2 linked regions of the Homo sapiens genome follow. The protein of the gene in region 2 interacts with the protein of the main gene of each other region in a pairwise test. Each region holds a gene or a part of one and is shown on either strand. Other genes may lie near its edges.

What was found.
Region 1: the proteins of SEPTIN3 (region 2) and PELI2 interact in binary tests that used the Homo sapiens proteins (3 or more experiments, as listed by UniProt).

The regions. Positions count from the first base shown.
Region 1 is NC_000014.9:56,280,407-56,291,884, reverse strand, and holds part of PELI2 (E3 ubiquitin-protein ligase pellino homolog 2), read right to left. Parts: intron 3,449-11,478; coding exon 3,251-3,448; intron 1,618-3,250; coding exon 1,429-1,617; intron 1-1,428. UniProt on the Homo sapiens protein: E3 ubiquitin ligase catalyzing the covalent attachment of ubiquitin moieties onto substrate proteins. Involved in the TLR and IL-1 signaling pathways via interaction with the complex containing IRAK kinases and TRAF6.
Region 2 is NC_000022.11:41,977,291-41,988,768, reverse strand, and holds part of SEPTIN3 (neuronal-specific septin-3), read right to left. Parts: intron 7,125-11,478; coding exon 6,933-7,124; intron 2,786-6,932; coding exon 2,657-2,785; intron 1,564-2,656; coding exon 1,482-1,563; intron 1,148-1,481; coding exon 1,010-1,147; intron 1-1,009. UniProt on the Homo sapiens protein: Filament-forming cytoskeletal GTPase. May play a role in cytokinesis.

The sequences.
Region 1 (11,478 bases), on a different chromosome or scaffold from region 2:
AGTTTGAATCCCACTGGCTGCCACCTGCTAACTCTGTGACACTGGGCAATCTTTAACTTCACGCCACATCTTCCTCATCCATGAAATGGGGATGACTCTACTTCCCTAAGAGGGCTGCTGTGCAGATGAAGTGAGCTCATGTCGGAAATGTTAACGCAGAGTCTGCACCCAGCAACCATTTACTGACTTCTTACTCTTGCTGTTATAATGATGAATAACCAGTTTGGCCAATCTAGGTCAGTTTTGTATAAAACTATCCAGTGATCAGAAACAAAAGATTATTTAGAAAAACTGCTTTCACATTTCCTCCTTTGTTTACAATTTCTTGAAAACATTCATACAAAATTTATTGAATTTGCTTTTTTTTTAGAAAATGCTTCTCATATTTATTCAGCCATGGTGCACTGTAAGACGCATACGCTGTGCCTGAAGCTGAAAAATGGTGTAAAATAGAAATAAAAATAACCATTCCCTAAACACAAACATCCAGTAGAGAACAGCAAATGAGGTCAGTGAAACAGCCCCCAACTTCTTTTTCCATCTTAGACATTTTTGGTGATGATCTTTCTCTCTGACAAGTGCTAGGTCAAATCCTCTATTCTGTATACATTTTATTCTGTGGGAGTTTTGAAGAACTCCTTCTTTTCTAGCTTCTAGAAAAAGACATTTGTTCTCTCTCGTTCTAGCTTCTACCTAGCAAATTAAGAAAAGTACAGGAATGGACAGCTTACTAAAAATCAGTGGCTGTGCTACATGGCTATGGCAAGATCAGAAACCCAAAGTTCTATATTTAAGGTATTATAATTATTCTCCAAGAAAGAATGGGTTTAAAAAAACTGCTTTAGGGCATGGGGATAAGTGGTGATATTTATAGGAAAATATTAACATGCCAGGTCAATGCAGTATATAAATCATTTCAAGTAAACAGTTGTAACTATGATTTTGGTGGACAGTATAGAGAATTCTGCCTTAATATATAGGAATTCAAAGGGAAAACCAGCTGACTTATTTTTTACTTCCAGAAAGTCTAGTAAATAATTCCTTAATGCATAATTTTTACTAATTGTTTTTGGACTGCTCAAACGTTTTCCAAATCAATAAAGTTTTACACTAAAAATAAGTTTCTTCTCCTTAAAGTGAATTTAAGTAGATTTTTGTGGTGAGGTATATAATAAAAGATAATGCTCTTCAGGTGGTAAGGAGCAAAACACAATTTACTCCCACTATGGGAAAAGTTGAACCCCTGAAGGAGATAAGGCCATTTCCCTCTTGATTTCAGGGGCTTGTGGAATTCTGCTTCTCCTGAGTTACAGTACATGGCGCTTGGACCTGCACAAAGGTTCTGAACATCAGGGGAGGAAAATGATAGCCTTCGAGTTAGGCTTGAGTAGTTTCGTACTTCACACTTGCAGAGTGAAGCACACTCACCAGCTTTCCTCGTTGCTGGGCCGACCTGGTTTCTCGCAAGGTGTACACATCTCCACAGACAGAGATCTCGCGCCAGACCCCGGGCTGGGACTCCTCGGTGAAGCCCCCTCGTGGATGCATCACCAGGACGCCATTAGTAGTGAGCCCATCCATGTGGCCGTCGGGGTTTTTCCACTTTGCTGCCTTTTCCTGGAGAGAACACAGCAGAACAGAAAAAGTAGGTTAAGATGATGTTGAAATGGAAAGGATTCTGGAATTTCTTTAATACATTGCATAGAGGCAGAGGGGAGGAAGGTGATGAATTTTCATTTTCTATTTAAAGCTAATAATCACAAGGATAACATATGCCATCCTTTCGACAATATAAAAGAAGTGCTGAATGGATGAATGACTTATCACTGGACACACATCATAGTTCTCAAGAACTTGCAAAAAATCGAGGCCTGGGCTTCTCCCTCTAAGATTCTTTTTACCTTCCCCACAACCCCATGAGATTCCAGGAATCTGGTGTGTTTTCTCTTTTCAGTTATACTTATGCCATGCTCCTATCCTGTTATCTAAAAGTACTTTCTATGTTCTCACTGTCAGGATAGAGAAGAGAAAGGACAGTCATAAAGAAAGACCTTTTATTAAAGCTAGAAAATTCCAAAAATGTTAAGCCAACAAGTCGGGGTCATTATGTTTTCATAATAATCACCGTTTAAATTCTCAAAGGTAGATGGCGCATGTAGCTTGACATGACGACAGGACAGACACTCTTGGGTGCTTGTGCCACAGCTCTTCCCTTCAGCTTTCTTGGTGACAGAGCTCAGCTACTGTTCATGTGGCTGGGGCGGGGGTTGGGGGGTGGTGGGGAATCCTGATTAACCCAACATGACACTCCCAGCCCTCTTCCCAATAGCTGGTTTACAGGTGGGCACAGCACATGACTGGGCTCTGACTGATGACACATGATATCTTCTTGGAGGCTTCCAAGAAAGGTGTCTGTGCTCTAAGAAGAGACAAGGAAGAAACAGTGCTTCTGCCACCCTCTTCTCTGGCTGGAAGTTGTCATGTGGCAGGGGACATCTGGAAGTGCAGGAGCCAGCTCTCACCCACAAGAAGACCTCCCAGGAAGAGGCTGGTGCACCACGGGAGGCAGAAGGCAAGACAGAGAGAACCCAGTGCACTGGATGTCACAGAACCACTGAACCACCAACCCTGGAGCTGGCCTTCATCGGCACTTCTTATGTGGGAATAGTACATTTTCACTGATTTTAGATCATTTTGAGTGGGTTTTTTCCTGCAAAAATATCCTAATTCAAAAGGAAACTATGTTAAACCTGGATATTCACTAAAACTTCTGGGGTTTACAAGGAAACCCTATAAGGGCAGGGATTCAAGTCTGTGTTGTTCTCTGTAATCCCATAACTAAAACACCCAGTATGGAACATAGCAAACACTCATAAAACATTTTTGAATGAGTGAATCACTAACATTTTCCTCTAAGCCCTAATGATCTAAATTTGGCCCATTTATTTTTCTCTCTGAAATAAACCTCTTCGTTGCCGTAAATACATTATGGACAATGTTATAGGCATACTTTAAAAAAAGTACTTACTGTAAATATTACAATATAAAAAATATAATGAATAACAAGCAATGCTTATTAATGTTCAGATTTTTAATAACAAGTTTCTCAAACTGGCCACCTGAAAACTAAAATCTCAAAATCTCACTAGAGGCAACATACAAAGCCAATTTTTTTTTGCTCCAATTAAATGTTCCATATCATAATCACAAGCATTTTTCTAGAAATCGTGTACTTCTTGACAGTACTTACTCCAAGAAATATGTTTTTGGAAGAGTCAAATCCGGCGGCGAATATCCGTGCTGTGTAAGGTTCATTCCTGTCGCACACGATCCTGCAGGCGAACCTGGATATGGTGCTCTGTGTGATCTGGGCTTCGTCCGTGTTCTGGCTGCCAGAAATCGTGTCTGTGACAACGAAGTCGATAGGGCTTTCTGTTGATCTGCCCACCTAAGTAAATCAAATGTACTCGTGATTCACTTGGAAAATAGCAGGGTGCCGTATTTTATTCACAAGGAAAAAGCATTCAGGATTCCTTTAACATTCACTATCCTTGTTCTGAGGGTTAGAATTTAATGCAAGATTTTCATTCGTGCTCCTTTTCCTATTTAACTAGGGAAGATATTAGGGTAACCAAATATTAGAGATACCTATTTTTAATTTTATTGTATTGTGCTAAGAATATAATATGAGATGTATCCTCTGAAATATTTGAGCACATAATGCAGTCATTGTTGACTACAGGCAGAACGGTGCACAGCAACTCTCTAGAACTTACTCATCTTGCTTAACTCACTTTATGCCACTCACTAGTTCATTAGATTTTAAGTATTGAGAAAAAGCTCAATTAAGAGGACAGGAGTAGATCTTTGGCCACTCATCAGATTTTATCTCTTGGATTAATGTTCTATCCCAACAACTGTAACTCTGATTCTGAAGTTGCCAATGGGAGGAATGCAGAGGCCTGTGATGTATGCACATAAAGTTCCCAAAAGTCAATTTCCAAGGCATTTTTATTCTGGTCTCAAAGTTCTATCTACAAACTAGGCAATGTAATACATTTTTCATCCAAATGAAGAAAGTAGAAAAAAAATCTTGTATCACTTAGCTCAGCTTGCTTCCTGGAACAATATTACATTTCTTTTGTAAATCTCATATATACGTTCTCATGCACAGACTATCTCTCTAAAACCAGCAGACCACAGACATCTATTTTCTTTTGTTTTTTTATCACCCTTAATTTCTTGCCCTAATGAAATGTGCCTGGAATGAACTAAACTGCTGGTTTCATTGAAACTTAACAATTTGAACAGATGCATATTGCCTAGATATATGCATTTCAGGTTTTGAAAACACATAACTTGTTAAAAAATGCAATGTAAAATCTAAATTAGATGTATTATAAAATCATATAATTCATCCTTCTAAAGCTGCAAAATCTCCTCTCTGCTAGATTCATTTAAAAACTGGGTAACTTGGAAACTCTACTGATTCAGACTGCTTTAATTTTGTTAAACATTTTTTAACAAGAAAATTAGAAAAGTAATGAAGACTTATTGCAAAATATTTAACAAATGGAGAAAAGTATAAAGGCGAAAACAAAGCCAACTTCAAACTTAGGCGTAAACCTGTCCTGAGCCTCTATTCCAGTGAAGTTTAGGAGTAAAATGTGATAAATTCTAGAATTTCCCAGTCATCTCACCAAACCTGGAGCCTCATAGCGACAGTCACTGTCACAAGATTTGTCCATCTCCATGGAAGAGGGCAATGACTTTTCAAGCTCTAAGTTCAAAGCCAAAACCACTCTGCTGGTTTGAATGTTTCATAACTGTTCCTTCTTGTGTACAGAAATTACTCTTTTCTAGAAGGGCCACATTCTGAGTTCATCCAAATGTATTAAATTAATGTCTTGATGAAGTAATTGAAATTGACTGTAAAAAGAGGAAATTTTATTCTAACTGGAACAGCCTGCTAGGATCAATGATTTTAAGTCATGACACTTATCTTGATCGGTCATACACATGACTTATCAGTTTGCTTCCACTTAAATCTAACCTCTAGAGTGCTGGTAAAATTTTATACTTTATGACACAAGCCTCATGTTGCTTTTTCCAGGAAAACAAAACAACAACAACAACAAAAAAAACAACAAAAAAACAAAACTAAGTCACTTTCCTGCTGAAAAATCACTCAATGTGGAAAACTTGCAGCCTGCCCTTTCTTTTGACTACTGGATCAACTCTACATTATTTTAAAGGCAGTCATGCACACAAGCCAAGATGCTTTTGAATTTCATCTGATATTCATATAGCACGCAAGCCAGGGTGCTTCTGAATTTCATGTGATAGTCACAGAATGCCGGTAGTCATATAACTAGCTACAGTGATAACTTTGCTCCATTCAGCATGTTAAATTTTATATATATAAGAAAAGTTTGGGTTTGCCTGGATGTCAGCTGAAGCCAGGACAGGTAAGATGGTATCAAAGCATCTAGAAGGGCCTCACCTTTTTCTCACCTCCCTCAACCAATTCCTCCCATCTCCCTGCATCAATCACTTTATTTTCTGACTTCCCTCCTGGGATAAGGATGAAATATTGTTGCTCCCATCTAAAAGCAATCTTTCCATTGACACTTGGTATTCCAATGTTCTCCCTTTCCCAAGGATTTTGCTCCTAATATTATCTCCTCTCTTTCTTGAGTCACCAATTTCTCCTTTTATACTGGATCATGCCATCAGCTTTCACACACGTTCTGGAGCTTCTCAAACTCTGTGGTTAAAGGACCAGTATAGTTGCTGTTGTTGTTTTAAATTTTAACCCATCACTGATGCCTTTTAAACATACAATAAAAATGAGTACTTGAGAAATGATCATCTGCTTGGATGTTTCCGCAATGCCAAACTGTCATAAAAGTTTCCTCTCAATTTGTATGCTTATCTCATTCTGTATTTTAACAAACATTTCACTGCTGGGCAGAGGGAGTGCAGTTTGAGTAGCCCTGCTCTGGCGTAGTCTCCCACCTTTAAAAACGCTTTCCTTCACCTGCAAGCAAGCCCCAGGCTCCAGCCCTGTTTCTCTGATTCACTTAACAGCAAGACTTCTTGGAAAACCTGTTATCTCCTCCACTTCCTCACCCATATCTTTAGCTTCCTTCTTCCTCAACCCACTCCAATTGAGCTTCCTTCCCCACAACTCTACTGAAACCACGCATGCTAAGATTCCAAAAATCAATATATTGCTAAATCCAGGGCTTATGCTGAGCCAGCATATGCCGGTCCATCTCTACCTGGTACTAAAATAATGAAACTTTCAGGCCAGTTGGTAAATAGTCCCCCCTTCCCTTTTCTTTCTGTTCTCTCCCTAAATAGTATCACCAAATCCCACCTAACAGCTCAAAGTCTTCATCTCTCCCCTGAGCTTCAGACCGGCACACCCAATCTCCACTTGTATGTTTGATAAATATCTCAAATGTAATATATGCCAAACAGAACTTGGATCCCCCTTCACCCTGGGGCTTCCCTATATCAATGACTGACTGACATCCAATTTGCTCAAGCTAAAAGTCAAAACCCAAGAATAACCTGATTCTTCAGTTTCCTCCATGCCCACATTAGCCCTGTGTAAACACTGTCAGCTGTACCTCCAAACACATCCTCAATCCTTCTACTTTTCCCATTTTGGTTCTGGTTACCATTATGTCTTACTTGGGTTCTATCACCTTAGCCTCCAAACTGGTCTCCCTGTTTTCATACTTGCCACCTAGATTCTTTTCCATACAGTAGTTTGAGAAATCGTACAAAAACATAAATCAGATTATACCTCTCTCCTGCTTAAAATCCTCCAACAGCTTCCCAAAATTCCTAGAATAAATCTCAGACTCAACCTGGCCTGAAGGTCCTACCTGTCTCAGCCTCTACCTGCCCTTCCAAGTCCATCTGAGTTCACTGCTGTCCTTCTCCACTGTGATCTTGACTTGGAGCCTTTGCGCTCACTGTTTCCTCTGCCCAGAGGGTTTGTTTATTTGTGGTCTGCCTTCTCCAGATGTAGCCTCCTTGAGAGGAGAGCCTTAGTTATCTCTCCCCAGTCATCAAAGGAGTTTCTGACACAGCAGATGGTCAAGAGATGAAACTAGTAATTGGAAGATTATGACAGGGAGGCTGAATCCTATGAGATACAAACATACCTGCACATGCATGCTCATGTACAATGGTTGTAGAAATACCCACTAGAAAATGTAGATATTCTTTAATATTTTCCTCTTAACTTAATAGATACTAATTAAATGTTATCATCTAAAACTACAGTAAATCAACTAAATTGAAAACCAAACCAAACCAAACCAAACAAAAAACCAAAACCCAAAACTGTTAGGCCTTGTAGCACCGCGTTCGAAGCCTGTGAAACTGTGAAATCTGAGAGAAAGGGCCCCTGAACACCGGCTGCAGGGCCCAGTCAGTCTCCTGGCCCCTAAGGTCAGAAGGCACTTGGCACCACACGTTACTCTAGGGACACTGTAAAGACAATGCACCCCTCTAATTCCTTCCATTAACTATTTTCTCTTTTATGTTTCACTTTCTTGTTAGACTTTTCTTTCTTTCCTTGTTTATGCCTACTCCAGAAAATAATGACCAAGATCTTACTCTGATTATATTAACTAACAATTTCTTATACCTTAAATTCAGATCTAGCTTTGATTTTTCTCCTCAGGCAATAATATTTCTGAGTTCTGAGTCTACTAACTGACTCCAACAGTGGGAAATGCAGCATAAAGCCCTTTCTTGGTTCTTTCTGATATTCTGCCTTTAAATACTCAATTAACCCTAGAAATCATTTTAATGGGAATGACTAAAACGAACAAACTCTCCACACTGAGGTCCATACTTCAGAACTATGAGTGCTGTCGCGCTTTTTGCTCAGTGATTTTTGTCAGTAGTAGGCTTTGGAAATATAAACTTGTTAAAAGGAGGAAAAAATGGAAACAAGCCTGTCTTTTCAAGGTCTTATGAGAGTTGCTTAGTTCTCTGCTTAAAATGATCTGCCACAGATCCTTCTAACAGGTCCAGTGAGTCTGTGAATGTAATGTGTTATATTTCCTTAAGAAACATGTGAATTCTTGCTTGGCTTACCATACTTTATTTAAAGAGGCTGAGCTGGTACTATTCAGAGAATGAAGAGCTCAGTGACCTAAATCTTAGCTCTGCCCCTAATGCCTCTTCTCTTCTGGCCTTAGTTTACATTACTTTTCCTTTCAAACACCCATATTTCTCAGCTATGAAATTAAGAGGTTGGTACAAATCAGTATTCTCAGCATGTGGTTGATGAACCCCAGAGGGTCCCTGAGACCCTGCCATGGGGTCTAGGTACATGAGGCCAAAATTACCTTCATAATAATACAAAGACGTTAACTGCCTTTTCCACTGTGCTGGTCTCTATGCTGATGGTGCTAGAACAATGGTGGGTAAAGCTGCTGGTGCTTTGGCATGATTCAAAGCAGTGGCACCAAACTGTATTAGCAGTCATTGTATTTTTCATTGCTGTGAATTTGCAGTTAAAAATTATGAACTTTATTAAATCTTGAGTCTTTCGATATTCTGTATGACAAAATAGGAAGTATGCATAAAGTACTCAGAAGTTAGTAACGGGAAGCTGAAAAAGTCCAACTAAATCTTTTAATTCATTCTGCAGAGATGAGAGGGAAGAAAGTGAGCATGTGAGTCGAATGTGACTGTTCAACAGTGCGGAATACACTATGTGACACGTACGTCGCTAAAGAATATCTATGAAACTCTGAAAAATTCCGAAGAAACAAGATTCTTCTTAAAGGAATTTAATGTCTCACACTTTGAGAGTACCTGACTTACCTATAACAGGTACCATCACAGTAGTTTTTGAATTTAAGTGGTAAAAAAGTATCACTGACAATTGTGAAATAGGCTTTATTCACTTTTTTAGTATTAAGAATTCTCTCTGTAAAAAAAATCTTTAAAATCTTCACTGCTACTGTAAGTAGTAAAAAAACTTATAAATTGAAAATAATTTTAATGAGTATTAAAAAGATATAATAATAAAGTTCCATAAAAATATCAACAGGGGAGAATATACATATACTTATGTAGGAAGATATTTTCCTTAACAGAATAAGAAGACATTTATAAGATTATATAATGGAATGGCATGGAGAGTAAAACCACATTTAGTATTTTGCCCAAACATGATAAATCTTATTTTTGAGTTCAAACTGGCACTTTAATAACTATTTTTATAAATATGACTATATATTTTATCTAAGATTATTTAGTTTTTAAATATCTAACACATACGCATAGTTCCAAAAATCGAAAAGTGTAAAATATCTCCCTGTATACCACCTGCTCAGTCCCTTTCCCCACAAAGGCAACTGCTACATTCATGTCTTGTTAATCATTTTGGAGATTTTTTAATGCATATAAGCATGATTTAAACCATTTTACCATATTAAATTAACATTTAATAATGTAATATTTCATATTATTTAATAACATTTTATTTAGTAGCATTTTAAATTAATGGAATATATATTACCAATATGACTCCATATACTCAATAATATTAATATTTAACTCATTTAATATGTTTGGAGCTCTTTCTGTGGCTATATATACAGCTTTTCTTTGTTCTGTTTTATACCCTTGGAGGGCTCCACTGTATAGCTGTACCCAAATTTACTGAACTGGTCCACTACTGAAGAACATTTAGGTTGTTTCCAATCTTTTCCTATTAAGCAATGCTTTGAGCAATAACTCTGTACAAATGGCGTTGCGCATGTAGGTAAGGATATCTCTGGGGTAAGTCTCTAGAAAGAAGAGCTTTACAAAGAAAAGAGCTGAGTCAAACTATGTAAACATTTTGTATTTTTCATAGCTATTTTCAAATTGCTACCCCATAAATGCTATACCAATTTATAGAATGTAGGATAATGTCTGTTTTCCCCATATCTTTGACAAAACCTTTTGGATTTCTGCCAATCTGACAAGTGAAAAGTGGTATCTCTATGTGGTTTTAATTCACATTTTTCTTTTTGTAAATGAGGTTGAGCATATTTTCTTATTTTTAAGAGTTACTTAGTTTCCTTTTTTGGTGAACTGTCTGTCAAATCCTCTGCTCATTTGTCTATCTGATTGTAGGTATTTTAAAAAGAGATTTCCAAGAGTACCTTATATATTTGTGACATTAACCTTTTGTGATACAAATTGTAAATATTTCCCCAATTTGTAATTTGCCTTTGGCTCTTCTTATCAGTCTGAGGTGCTGAAGTTCAGGACTACTGCAAATACATTTAAAAACCACATAAAATATTCTTTCTTTCTCAATCAAAAGTACTGAATTAGGTGATCCAGATTAGGCCTGTACTTTACAATGTTACAGAAAATGGAAAAAGAGCTGGTGCATTTCTTTCTAGTCCCATCTCTCTTCCATACCTATGTTTATGTGTGTGCATATAAAAATAAAGCATGAAGTGGACATATGCCTTTTTTCACTTATTTTATTGCGCTTCCCATTTAATAATCATGTAATGGCTGCATGGTATTTTGCATTTAAATGCACCATACTGTAATCATTCTTACCTACTCCTGGAAGTATAGGTTTATTTTTAGTTTTTTACTAGTATATACAACACTACAATGAACAACTTTTTGGTTAAATCTTTGTTCATATTCCTTAATTATTTACGTATAAAAATGACTGAAGTTAGAATTACTGGGTCAATTGGTCTGAGCGCTGAAATTCATGGTAGTACTGCAATGTTGCCCTATAGAAATGTTGCACCAATTCACAGTCCCACCAGGGGGACCAATTCCATACAATGTTTTACAGTGCTGTATTATTTAATATTTTCCAATTAATAGGTAATAAAGAGTATTTTATTATTAATTCATTTGGTATTTTAAAAACTATTTTATATATTTATTGGCCATTTATATTTCTTCTTCTGAGAATTATATGTTTTGTTCTTTGTCCATTTTTGAAAGCATGGGAAAAGTGATTACTGTACAGTAGGTATCAATCCTTTGTCTACTTGATTTGTTGCCCTAATTGTCTCTAGTTCGACTTCTAATTTTTGTGACATTTAAAAAAGAAGTGAAAATGCGTAGGGTAAAATCTATTTCTTCATTTACTATTGATCCTTCCCTATTCCAAGAATATGAATTCTCCTAAGTTTTTTTCTAGAACTTTTTGTTCCTTCAGTTTTATATTTAAATGTTTATTCTCTAGAATTTACTTTAGCAGAGTATGATGTTAGTATCTATCATACTCTTTTGATGTTTGTTTCGACATCATTTATGTAATAATTTAACTCTCCATATGGAAATGCAAAGCCTCATCAATTCCAACTTATGCTTGCTTTTTTCTGTTATTAGTCTAAATTTTAATTGTTTGTTGTTTTAAAGTACTAAATCTGGAATATATTCATTAATTCTCTTTTTTTTAAATTCATTAAC
Region 2 (11,478 bases):
CAAACTGGAGGCCTTGCCCTTCCCACAATCTGACAGTCTATGCCCCCATCCTACCTCAGGCTCTGAGACCCCAACTTGGCTCTATTTTGCAATCTCAGGGACTCACTAAGTCAGTCTGTCTGATGGTTCATTCTGACCAGGGGGTCGAAGCCTAGGGAGGGATAAAACCAGCCTTCTGTTGAGTTCCTGGGTCTAGCCCAGGGGTCTTGTTTCATCTCTCTTCTCCCCCTACCATCACTGCCTGGTTCCTAGAAAATTTGGGGCTTACCTTGCTTGTGCCATCCTCTGAAGAGCTTAACTCTGGCCCAGCAGCTGGGCTTAGTAATGTTATGGGACCCCCCTCCCCCGGTCTCTGCAGGAAGGTTTCTGGCCTGCCCCCTAGGATCTCCATCCTCTGCCTGTTCCCAGCACTTCCTTCATGGGGCCCACCTGTCACTCACAATCAGAGTTCCCAACATGCTTGTGTGTGTCTTATTCTGCCTATCAGATAGTACTTCATGACAATGGTTGGCCTTCATCTCTGAACACACAATGCCTCACTCCAGGCTGGTACCTTCTAAATGCCTACAACTGGGTCCCTACCCTCCAAACACCAGCCCCAATCCAGGAGCCCTGCACTGCCCTATTTCACCCTTCTTGCTGCTCCCTCCGACTCCAATTATTTTCCAAAGCAGGTATTTGGTGAATAAATGAAGTGCCCTCTGCTCACATTCACCAAGTCCTCTTTGCTGATACAGTTGTGCCATGCTGCTGGGACACCAGTGGGCAGATATTGGTGGCTGATGTTGGACAGCTTTAACCTCCTAGCAAGAAAGTCAAACTTCCTCGTGGAAAGTCTAGGGAATCCCAAGGTCATGGGCCATGACTATGTACCAACCCATCTGGCTGGAAGGGCTAGGACTCAGCTAGGGAGGCCTAGCTGAGTCAACGTATGGATCATCCAATCCAGATGGGCACAGATGATACAAACCAGACCAGGCCTGACAATAGGGGTAGGGTTGGTACATACGAGTGTCCTGTGGGAGAGATGAAGTAAAGGCAGCAGTGGACACGAGTGTCAGGGATGCGTTTCTTCCTGGCGATGTTGACCTCCTCCTTCAGGAACTTCTCGTACTGCTCATTGATGTACTTCTCAATGGGCTCCCAGCTGATGGGGAGGGAAAGTAGATAGATGCATCAGAAGAACAAGACCTAGGGCTCAGCTTAGGCATGATCTGGTAGCAATCTCCTTACATTCATGTCATTCCCTGGTTGGTGGGCCTAGGATACCTGCTGCCAGATTCCCCCTCAGCCCCCGCACCGATGGCTTTCCTGGATGGTTAGTTAGCAGGGGTGGAGCTCCCCAGGGGCCCTGGCCTGGGCTGTCGGGAACTACAGAGCATGGAGGGTGCAGATGGTTCTCAACGTGAATGAATCTGCACCATAGTAAGTATCTTCCCAGCAGAGTCTTTAGGGCAAAGATCTCAGAGGCAGACAGATACCAGTTTTCATTGTTGATTTGGTCTCCAAAGCCTGGGGTGTCGATGACGGTCAGCTTCATTTTGACACCGCCTTCCTCTATCACTGGGGGTGAAAAGAAAATGTACCAGAGAGGTCAGTCCTACAGCTGACCCCAGGTACCTGGCAGCCTACTAGCCAGGGAGACCCAGGCCTTGTCTTCAGGATCAGTTATTGGAAAAGTCAAATTTAGGGTCTTTTCCATCTCGATATCATGGCTTATGCTGTTCCCTGTACCTGGAATCTGGAATACCCTCTCTACTCATTTCTTTTTCTTCTTCTTTTATTTTTTTTAAGAGACAGGGTCTCACTCTGTCACCCAGGCTAGAGTGCAGTGGTGCAATCACAGCTCACTGTAGCCTCGAACTCCCCAGCTCAAGTGATGCTGTCGCCTCAGCCTCCCCAATAGCTAGGACTACAGATATGCACCATCATACCCAGCTAATTTTTTTTTTAAGAGACAGGGTTTCGGGCCGGGCGTGGTTGCTCACGCCTGTTATCCCAGCAGTTTGGGAGGCCAAGGCAGGCGGATCACGAGCTCAGGAGATCAAGACCATCCTGGCTAACACAGTGAAACCCCATCTCTACTAAAAATACAAAAAAAATTAGCCGGGCGTGGTGGCGGGTGCCTGTAGTCCCAGCTACTCAGGAGGCTGAGGCAGGAGAATGGCGTGAACCCGGGAGGTGGAGCTTGCAGTGAGCCGAGATCGCACCACTGCACTCCAGCCTGGGCGACAAAGCAAGACTCCGTCTCAAAAAAACAAACAACAAACAAACAAAAAAAGAGACAGGGTTTCACTGTGTTGACCAAGATGGTCTCGAACTCCATGACTCAAGCGATCCTCCCACTTTGGCCTCCCGAAGTGCTGGGATTACAGGCATGAGCCACCGTACCTGCCCACTCCTTACCTCTTTCTACCTGTCTAAATCCTGTACTTTATCATCCACCTCAAATCTCACCTCCTTCCATTCGAGCTCCCTGCTCTCTCTTCCCTGAACCTGCAGTCTAAGGAGTTTGCTTCAGAGTGAAGTGCTCACGTCTGTTTTGTCTTAAGGTTGCCTTTTATTGATCTTATTCTTCAATAAGCCCCATTCTTTCCCCTTTCCAGCAGAGGCACTCACTGAACAAAGCCCATAGGGGTCCCTGCCTGGTCCTCACCATGCCCGATAGCTTTGATCTCCACTGTCTTGGGGATCTTCTCCTCCCGGTTCCAGCTGGAGGCCTTGCGGCTCACTTGGGATTTGAAGAGCGTGTTGACCAGCGTTGATTTGCCCAGTCCACTCTGGCCTACAGCAAAGCAGGAGGAGGAGGTAGGGAGACTCTGCATCCACCTCCTGAGCCTAATATTTCTCCATAAGCTTACAGAATTCTAGAGCCATGATCCAGGCCACACCTTGTCTGACCACTCACTGGGGGATGGCCAGGCTGAGTGGGGATTGCAGGCAGGTGGGAATGGCTTCCTGCTTACTGCAGAGGGCCTTGGGGAAACATCACTTGGATTCCATATTCTCTCCTTCCCAGAGCCACAGGACCACTGGGAAAAGGGACAACCTCTGCATATGTCTAGTGTCGTGGTTTTCTGTTTTCTCGTGATTCCATTTTTTGCTTAGGTTTTCACTTTTTAATGATACTAAAAGGAAAAATAGAATGACTTTGCATCCTGATACTGCCTCACAGTGCATATTGTACATTCACATTTGTTAGCCAAATTCATTTTTATATCAGCCCTGTGGATCCTGAAGCAGAACTATCTTTATCCTCAGTTGAGATGGTCCTAGAGAGATGAATCCTCTTCTAACAAAATATGTGCAGAGCAACATAACTAATACATGCAAGACCAGGAACTCAAACCCTAATAACATCTTGGCTCTATATCCACTCTTTCTTCTAGTGTAGTGGTTTTTAGATTGTGCTCCCAGAAGCCTTAGTGTCCTGTGAAGATACATGCCAGAGAGGGCACTGTGAGAGGAGGAGGAGGCTGGGCAGGCAGGGCCCCTGCATCCACTTCCTTCGCTATGGCTCCCTTTCACCTGTTTTCCAGATGCATATCTGCAGAAGATTTCATTTCAAGGAAAAGTTTCACAGCTAAAGAACATTTGAAAACCACTGGTCAGGCCGTTTGCCGTGGCTCACACCTGTAATCCCAGCACTTTGGGAGGCCGAGACAGGCGGATCATGAGGTCAGGAGGAGATCGAGTCCATCCTGGCTAACACGGTGAAACACCGTCTCTTCTAAAAAAAATACAAAAAATTAGCCCGGCGTGGTGGCAGGCGCCTGTAGTCCCAGCTACTCAGGAGGCTGAGGCAGGAGAATGGCATGAACCTGGGAGGCAGAGCTTGCAGTGAGCTGAGATCGCGCCACTGCGCTCCAGCCTGGGCGACAGAGCGAGACTCCGTCTCAAAAAAAAAAAAAAAAAAAAAAAAAGGGAAAACCACTGGTCAGGCCAGGTGCAGTGGCTCATGCCTGTAATCCCAGCACTTTGGAAGGCCAAGGCGGGCAGATCACTTGAGGCCAGGAGTTCGAGACCAGCCTGGCCAACATGGTGAAACCCTGTCTCCACTAAAAATACAAAAATTAGCCGGGCATGGTGGCACATGCCTGTAGTCCTAGCTACTCAGGAGGCTGCGGATCGTTTGAACCCAGGAGGCAGAGGCTGTAGTGAGCCGGGATCACGCAACTGTACTCCAGCCTGGGCAACACAGCGAGACTCTGTCTCAAAAGAAACAAACCCACTGGTCTGAGCAGAGCTTCTCAAACTTCAACACGTACAAGAATCCCACAAGAAAGACTTGCAATTGACAAGCAGCCTCGGCATTGCCCGGACACTAGTAGGAAATGCAGAATCTCAGGCCCCACCCCAGACCTATGATTCTGAATCTGCATTTTAACTGGGCTTCCAGAAGAGTCCTATGGACAATAAGATCTAAGAAATACTGGGCTGGTGAATTCTTGTGATTATATTAGAAAAAGAACCATGCTGGGGGACAAGGGCCTAGAGTTCCAGACCCACCTGCATTGTTTTCCCTGAATGCCTTTGGATTAGTCATGCCTTGGTTTCTTTACTGATAGGATGGTGAGGAGAGAGGAAATTGGACAAGACCAGGGATGGTAAATAAGGTGCATTTCTCATTCCTGCTGATTATCTGGTAGTAGTCACCTAGACCATTATGTTAAAAAGGCTACATCTGGGCTCAGCACTGAACACGTGCCATGACTGACTAGCAGTCTGCCATGCACACCACTGGGGAGAGAAGTGGCTCACGGGTGTTGGATTTGCCATGCTTGCTCTGAGATGTTTTCTAAGAGCATTCATTCATTAATTATTCTTAGGTGCCAAGTGTTGTCCTAAAATTTGGAGGTACTATCGTGAACAAAACATGATCCTTACCCTCAAGGAGCTGCTTAGTGTGAGAGTGACCAAAACATAAGCAGACAATTATAGTATGTTGCAATAACCACTGTGAAAGAGAATAGCCACAGGGTATTGAAACAGCATTGCCAAGGGAATCCAACCCAGTCTCTCTGGGACTAAGGAAGACTTCTGGAGAAATGCAACTAAGCTGAAACCGGAAGGTTGATTTCAAAAGAGTCATGAGTTCTAGCCAGAGGGAACAGCAGATGCAAAAGCTCTAGGGTAGGAGAGAGCATGGCATGTGGACGAGCACTGCCTCTTCTGAGTGAGGAGTACAATGCTAGATGGGAAGTGGTCAGAGATGAGCTGAAGAGGTACAATCAGGACAGTCTACGAGTTTAAACTTACCCTGAGGTTAAAGGAGAGTTTGTTACAGAGTTTTAAGTAAGTTGGGTGACTCGATAAGTTTTGCAAGGTGGGAAGATTATTTGGTCACTGGTGGACAAGGGATTGGAGAGGAAAGGAGACAGAGAGCTAGGAGGGTTGGTGCCACTCCGAGTGTGGCCCATAGGGGCCCAGCTACCAGGGTCCCTGACCCATTTGCTACTGGTTCTTGAGATAAGAAGTCTGCCTCAGGAGAGAAATCTACCTTGTCACTGAGCACACTGTTTAGCTCAGTGGAGGTTTTTTATAGCAAGATTTTCCAGATGATTTATACTCTGGCCCAAGCCCCAGCTGAGCTTATCTTGCTGCAGGTCAGCACTTTGACAGCACAGAGTCAGGTGGCCACGGCAAGCCAGGTGAGAGAAAGTCAGTATAGGGTGGCAGCAAGAGAGAGGAGAGAAGTGGGCAGACGTAAGAGATACGTATGAGGTAAAATGGACAGGACTGGATGACTGATTGGGGGATGAAGGAGGAAGAGGACAGAAGGATGACGCCAGATTCCTTTTTCAGCACTGACTGGACATCTCACTGAGACGGGGCAAAGGTCCCTTCCTACTCTTTTTTTTTTCTTCTTTTTTTTTTGAGATGGAGTTTCACTCTTGTTGCCCAGGCTGGGGTCCAATGGTGCAGTCTCAGCTCACTGCAACCTCCACCTCCCAGGTTCAAGTGATTCTCCTGCCTCAGCCTCCAGAGTAGCTGGGATTACAAGCATGTGCCATCATGCCCAGCTAATTTTTTTGTATTTTTAATAGAGACAGGGTTTCACCATGTTGGTCAGGCTAGTCTCAAACTCCTGTCCTCAGGTGATCCACCCACCTCGGCCTCCCAAAGTGCTGGGATTACAGGCGTGAGCCACCATGCCCAGCCCCTTCCTACTCTTACATTCTGTGACGCAGTGATGCTACTCAGTGACCAAATCCCTGGAAATTCTCTCAAAATCTTTTTTGTTTTTTGTTTTTTGTTTTGAGGCGGAGTTTCACTCTTGTTGCCCAGGCTGGAGTGCAATGGCGTGATCTCAGCTCACTGCAACCTCCACCTCCCGGGTTCGAGCGATTCTCCTGCTTCAGCCTCCCGAGTAGCTGCGATTACAGGCATGCGCCATCACACCTGGCTGATTTTGTATTTTTAGCAGAGATGGGGTTTCTCCATGTTGGTCAGGCTGGTCTCAAACTCCCGACCTCAGGTGATCTGCCCACCTCAGCCTCCCAAAGTGCTGGGATTACAGGTGTGAGCCACCACACCCGGCCTTCTCTCAAAGTTTTAAAGCACTACAAAAGAGTAGAAATAAGACCACCCTTCATCCAATCCTTCCACCAGCTCTCAGAGGTAAGGAAGAACATTGCTGATTCTCTCATGTCACAAACCCAAAAGCAGGATCAGAGTGGTGAAGGGGCTGCCTGTGTACACCGAGCTGGTGATGGGGGGCTGGGCTGGCATCCACCTGAAGCTCCTACCCCTGGGTCAGCTAGTCTTAAGGGGAGACAGGGGTCAGGCCTTTGTGATCAGCATGGTGAAATTCTCCCTTCTACAAACAGCTCATCTTAGAAGAGCCAGGGTCACAGCCATTTGGGGGAAAGAAATGGGATCCTTGGTGCTGCCCGCCACCAGGCCTGCAGCAGCCCCACAGCCTTCCGTACCAACGACCATGATGTTGAAGTCGAAACCGGTCTTCATGGTCTTCTTGCGCATCTGCTCGATGATGGTGTCGATGCCGATGTAGCCCAGCAGGTTGGAGTTGATGCTCATGGGCTTCATGGGCACCGCTGGCTTAGGCCTGGGCTCAGGCACCAGCTCTGACATGGCTGCGTCCGTCCTGGTCTCTGGGAGCCCTGCAGAGCCAAGGTGGGAGGGGTCGGAGGGGTGATCAGGAGGACGGCAGAGGTCACATGGAAACCATGGTATTTTTCTCTTGCTACAGAATCATACAAAGTTGGGCCTGGAAGGGATCTTAGTATCATCCAGTCCAGGTCCCTCATTTCATAGACAAAGAGACTGAGGCCTGGAGGAGAAAGAACTCAACTAAGAACACAGAGCAGGTCAGAGGTAAAATCTGGGCCAGTGCCAGGTTCTCTGGTTGCTGGGCACTTTCAAATGCACCTCACTGCTCTGAAGCCCACATCTGTGCATCTAACCCAGGGGCTGCTCCATCTTGGCACTAATGACATTTGAGTAATTATTGTGGGAGGCTGTCACATGCATTACAGGATGATTAGTGGCACCCCTGATCTTAGTAGCCCCCCAGGCTGTGACAACCCAAAATGTCTCTAGATGGTACCAAATGTCCCCTGGGAAGCACCATTGCCCTGGCTGAGAACCACTGGTCTAAGAAATGTCTGGGGTTGTTCAGACCTGAGTCATGCCTCCCTCCCCGAATAAAGGGCAAAGACTTTTTAGGATCCTGCACTAACATCTATTAACTGTCACTGACCTCGGCTGCTTCATCTTTTAGAAGCAAACAGGGCTACCCTTCTCTGGAGAGTGGCTATCACTCTCGTCTCCCAGCCTCGATGTCCCCTCTGTACCATGAGCACCACTGCAGAGTAGGGGTGTCTGTACCTGAAGGAGCCCAGACACCCTCCCAGCCATTGTTCTGAATCTGTGGAACCAGTGGGGAGGGGATGAGAACCAGATGAGGGCAGTCACTTGCCTAAGACGACACAGTGTGCTCTTGGAGTGGTGGATAGCAGATGAAAGAGAAGGCTGAGGAACCAGCCCCTCCCTAGTGAGGAAGGGCAAACGTCCCCCTGGGTTTAGTGGATCATGGGTGTGTTCATACACAGGAGAAATCTGTGGGTTTCCTTATCAGGCCACTGTCCACCAGGGCAGGTTCCAGAATAGAGCACCTCCATTTCCCCATCCATACAATTGGGGTATGGGGTGAAGTGGAAAGAGCCTGGCTCTGCTACTTCTCAGCTTTGTGGACTTGGGAAGACCACCTCCCCACTATGAGCCTGCATCCCTCTCTATAAAATGGAAAGATCATCACTAAGACTGTGGTGAGCTTTCATGAGACATGATGCTTAGAAGCACTGAGCAATGGCCGGGCGCGGTGGCTCACGCCTGTAATCCCAGCACTTTGGGAGGCCAAGGCAGGCGGATCATGAGGTCAGGAGTTCGAGACCAGCCTGATCAACATAGTGAAACCCTGTCTCTATTAAAAATACAAAAATTAGCCAGGCATGGTGGCAGGCGCCTGTAATCCTAGCTACTCAGGAGGCTGAGGCAGGAGAATTGCTTGAAATCGGAAGGCGGAGTTGCAGTGAGCCGAGATCGTGCCACTGCACTCTAGCCTGAGCAAAAGAGTCAAACTCTGTCTCCAAAAAAAAAAAAAAAAAAAAAAAAAAGGCACTGAGCAATATCTTACAGTCCCAGACCCTTTTGCCCCAGCCCCTTTCAGGTCTGTAGGGGAAATGAAACAGTACATGTGAAAGCATTGGTTAAAGGAAGGTGTCCCCAGATGCCAGTTACACAAGCATGGTTGTTGGACTCCATGTGCTCTTGAGGACACCTTCCAGCTCTGCCGTTCTAGAATCCTATGTTTCATGACTAACACCCTGCAGAGTCTCAACCTTACAGGGAGGCCTGATGGAGCAGCAGATGGGCGGGAGGGAGAGGGGACAGAAGTATTCCCTTCCCACCCCTAAACCCAGCCAGGAGCCTACTCTCATCTCCCTCCACCTGGTCCTTCCACCGGTACTGGTAAGACCCTCTCTCCCAATGGGAAACTGTTCTTTCTTCTGTCACTCCCAGGCACAGCCAAATCTGCCAAAGCCTCAGGACCTCCCCAGGGCCTGGCATGGCTCTCTCTTGCTTCCCAGGAAGCTGTTCCCAGCCAGGCAGCTCCGCATGGCAGCAAGATTGGCCCAGCCCTGCAGCAGCTGACTCTCAGCAGCCTGGCCCTGCTCCTCCACTCTTGCACGTGGCTCACAGGCCCCACTCAGCACACCTGCACTGGGACCAATGCCCCATTTTTCCTGCCCAGCTGCTCACACAAGCTGGGCCTTTCCATTGCCCCTTATGCCTCTGCAGCTGAGCCCATTTGGTCTCAACCTGTGTTATAAGATAGAGCCACATGGTTTGGGGGGGTGGTCTTATCCCCATTTTACAGACTTGGAAAGTATGCCTTGTATTTACTTATGAGAGGTTGTGTAAAGATTCCTATAAAGTGTGTGCTCTCACCATGGCCTGCTCCGCCCTGGCCTGTCAACTGCAGCATCCTAAAAGAGCACGCCCAAAAGATAGACCCTGATGGAGAGAGGGTCCTACCAGATCCCCAAGCAGCATCTAGGGGCTACCACAGGCCCACTACAGGACCAGGACCTGGTAGATCTCACTTTCATTCCTCCAACAAGCACATATGAGCACCCACTGTGTGCACTGTACACAGCGCCTGCTGGCAAGTCAGCCTCCCCACCACATGCCAGTGACATGCCAGTCACATGCTAACAAGCCACCCACCAGCCCCAAGTACAGTAAATGTGTGCAGGTCACTGTGCCACAAGCTTTGCTGGAAGATCCTGTTCCCCCTCCAACCCCTGGCTCCCTCCTCCTCCTCCTCCTCCTCCTCCTCCTCCTCCTCCAGCATTCAGCCCCACTGCTACTCCCAGGAAAGCCTCTGCTTTGCCTTCTGATGTGGATGGCCCTCTTCTGTGCCCACTGCACATTTTCTGGTACTCATCACATTCACTCATTCATTCATTCCATCCCATCTAGGCCATTTCATATGCTGTCAAATGGGGGTCTACACCAGCCAAGCCCTAGGCGAAATTCCAAGGACACTTATGTACCCCAGACAAGGTTGTTGCCCTTGAGGGCCCCCTGTCTGGTAAGGGTGCCTGACAAATAAACAAAGACCTCTGGGGCACAGAACCAATGCTGCTCTGGAGCTGGATTCTGTAGTTCCATCCTCTGTCCCTACAACTCCCCTGGTCCCACCATGTCAACGTCAGATGGGCAGGTGACCCAGGCTTGAATCCTGGCTGGGTGACCCTTATGAGCCTCATTTTCTGCTCAGACAACTGGGGATAGAACCTACCTTGCTGGGTTTCTATGAAGGTTATACAGAATGAAGAATGTAAATTATCTGGCACAAATACGTACTAGTTCTCACCCTTCTTTAGGGCGGGGCCGTGTCTTATTGATCTCTGTGCCCCAGTCTACCCAGCATACCACAGGCACTCCTCAATAAGTGAATGAATGAATGATGAGTGAATGAGAACTTCAGAGTGAGGCAGGTATCAGACACATCACCTTTCTCTTCCCTCAGATGCTTCTCCCCATGCAGAGCAGCTGACCCCCCAGTGAGCAATGGCTGTTGTCTCCGCCACAGTCAAGGGAGTAGAATTGTTGAGACCTCCTCCTTCCTCTGCAACAAGGATTGGAGGGGGGCTCCCCAAGGGTGGGGAAGAGCTCGGGTCACAGCAGGGTGCAGCTCAAGTCTGCCATCCTGGCTAGATGGTCCTTGGGGCCCCCCTCAGCTCCTGGCTCTCCTAGGGCCCCTGGAGAAGGGGGATCTGCCTGCAGCACCCTCTGCCAGAAGCTACCTGCCCCATCAGTGCTCCAGGGAGAGGCACCATCCACCTGACTCGGTTGCAGCCAAGAAACAGCCCCTCCATTCCCATGCTAAGCAAAGACCCTGGCACTTCCTTTTACAGGCAAATGAATGGCTTTGGCTTTGTCTGGCCCAGGGACCCCACCCCTGTGTTAGGAAGGTAGCAGCTGGGGGAGGGTACTTTTCCAAAATAGCACCTGCTTAGTGCAGGCCCCCCCTCTTCCTTCCACCCTGAAGATGGATCTTCCTCAGCCCCCCGCAGCCTTCAGGACCCCACCGCCCCCCACAAAGGCAATTCCAGCCCACCCCAGTTCCAGCCCTAGGCTCTGGGAAAAGGAATCACGAAAGCTCTCTCGGTCCTTTCCCATTCGCAGGAGCAGAGGGCCCTGGGACACCCGTTCCCCCATCCCAGTCCTCTGGAGGCCAACGGGTTCCCTTGGAGACCACCAGCTGGTGCCTGTCTCAGCGTGTGCCTGTAGGGGTTGCGGGGGAGGGGACGTATGTATCAGTGCACAGGTCTCTCATCCGGCTGGCATGGCCCTGGCACCTGTGCGTGGTGTGTGTGTGTGTGCGTGTCTTGGTGTACTCCAGCATGGGGCTTTCTGTGCGCATCTGGGTCCCTGCTTGCGTGT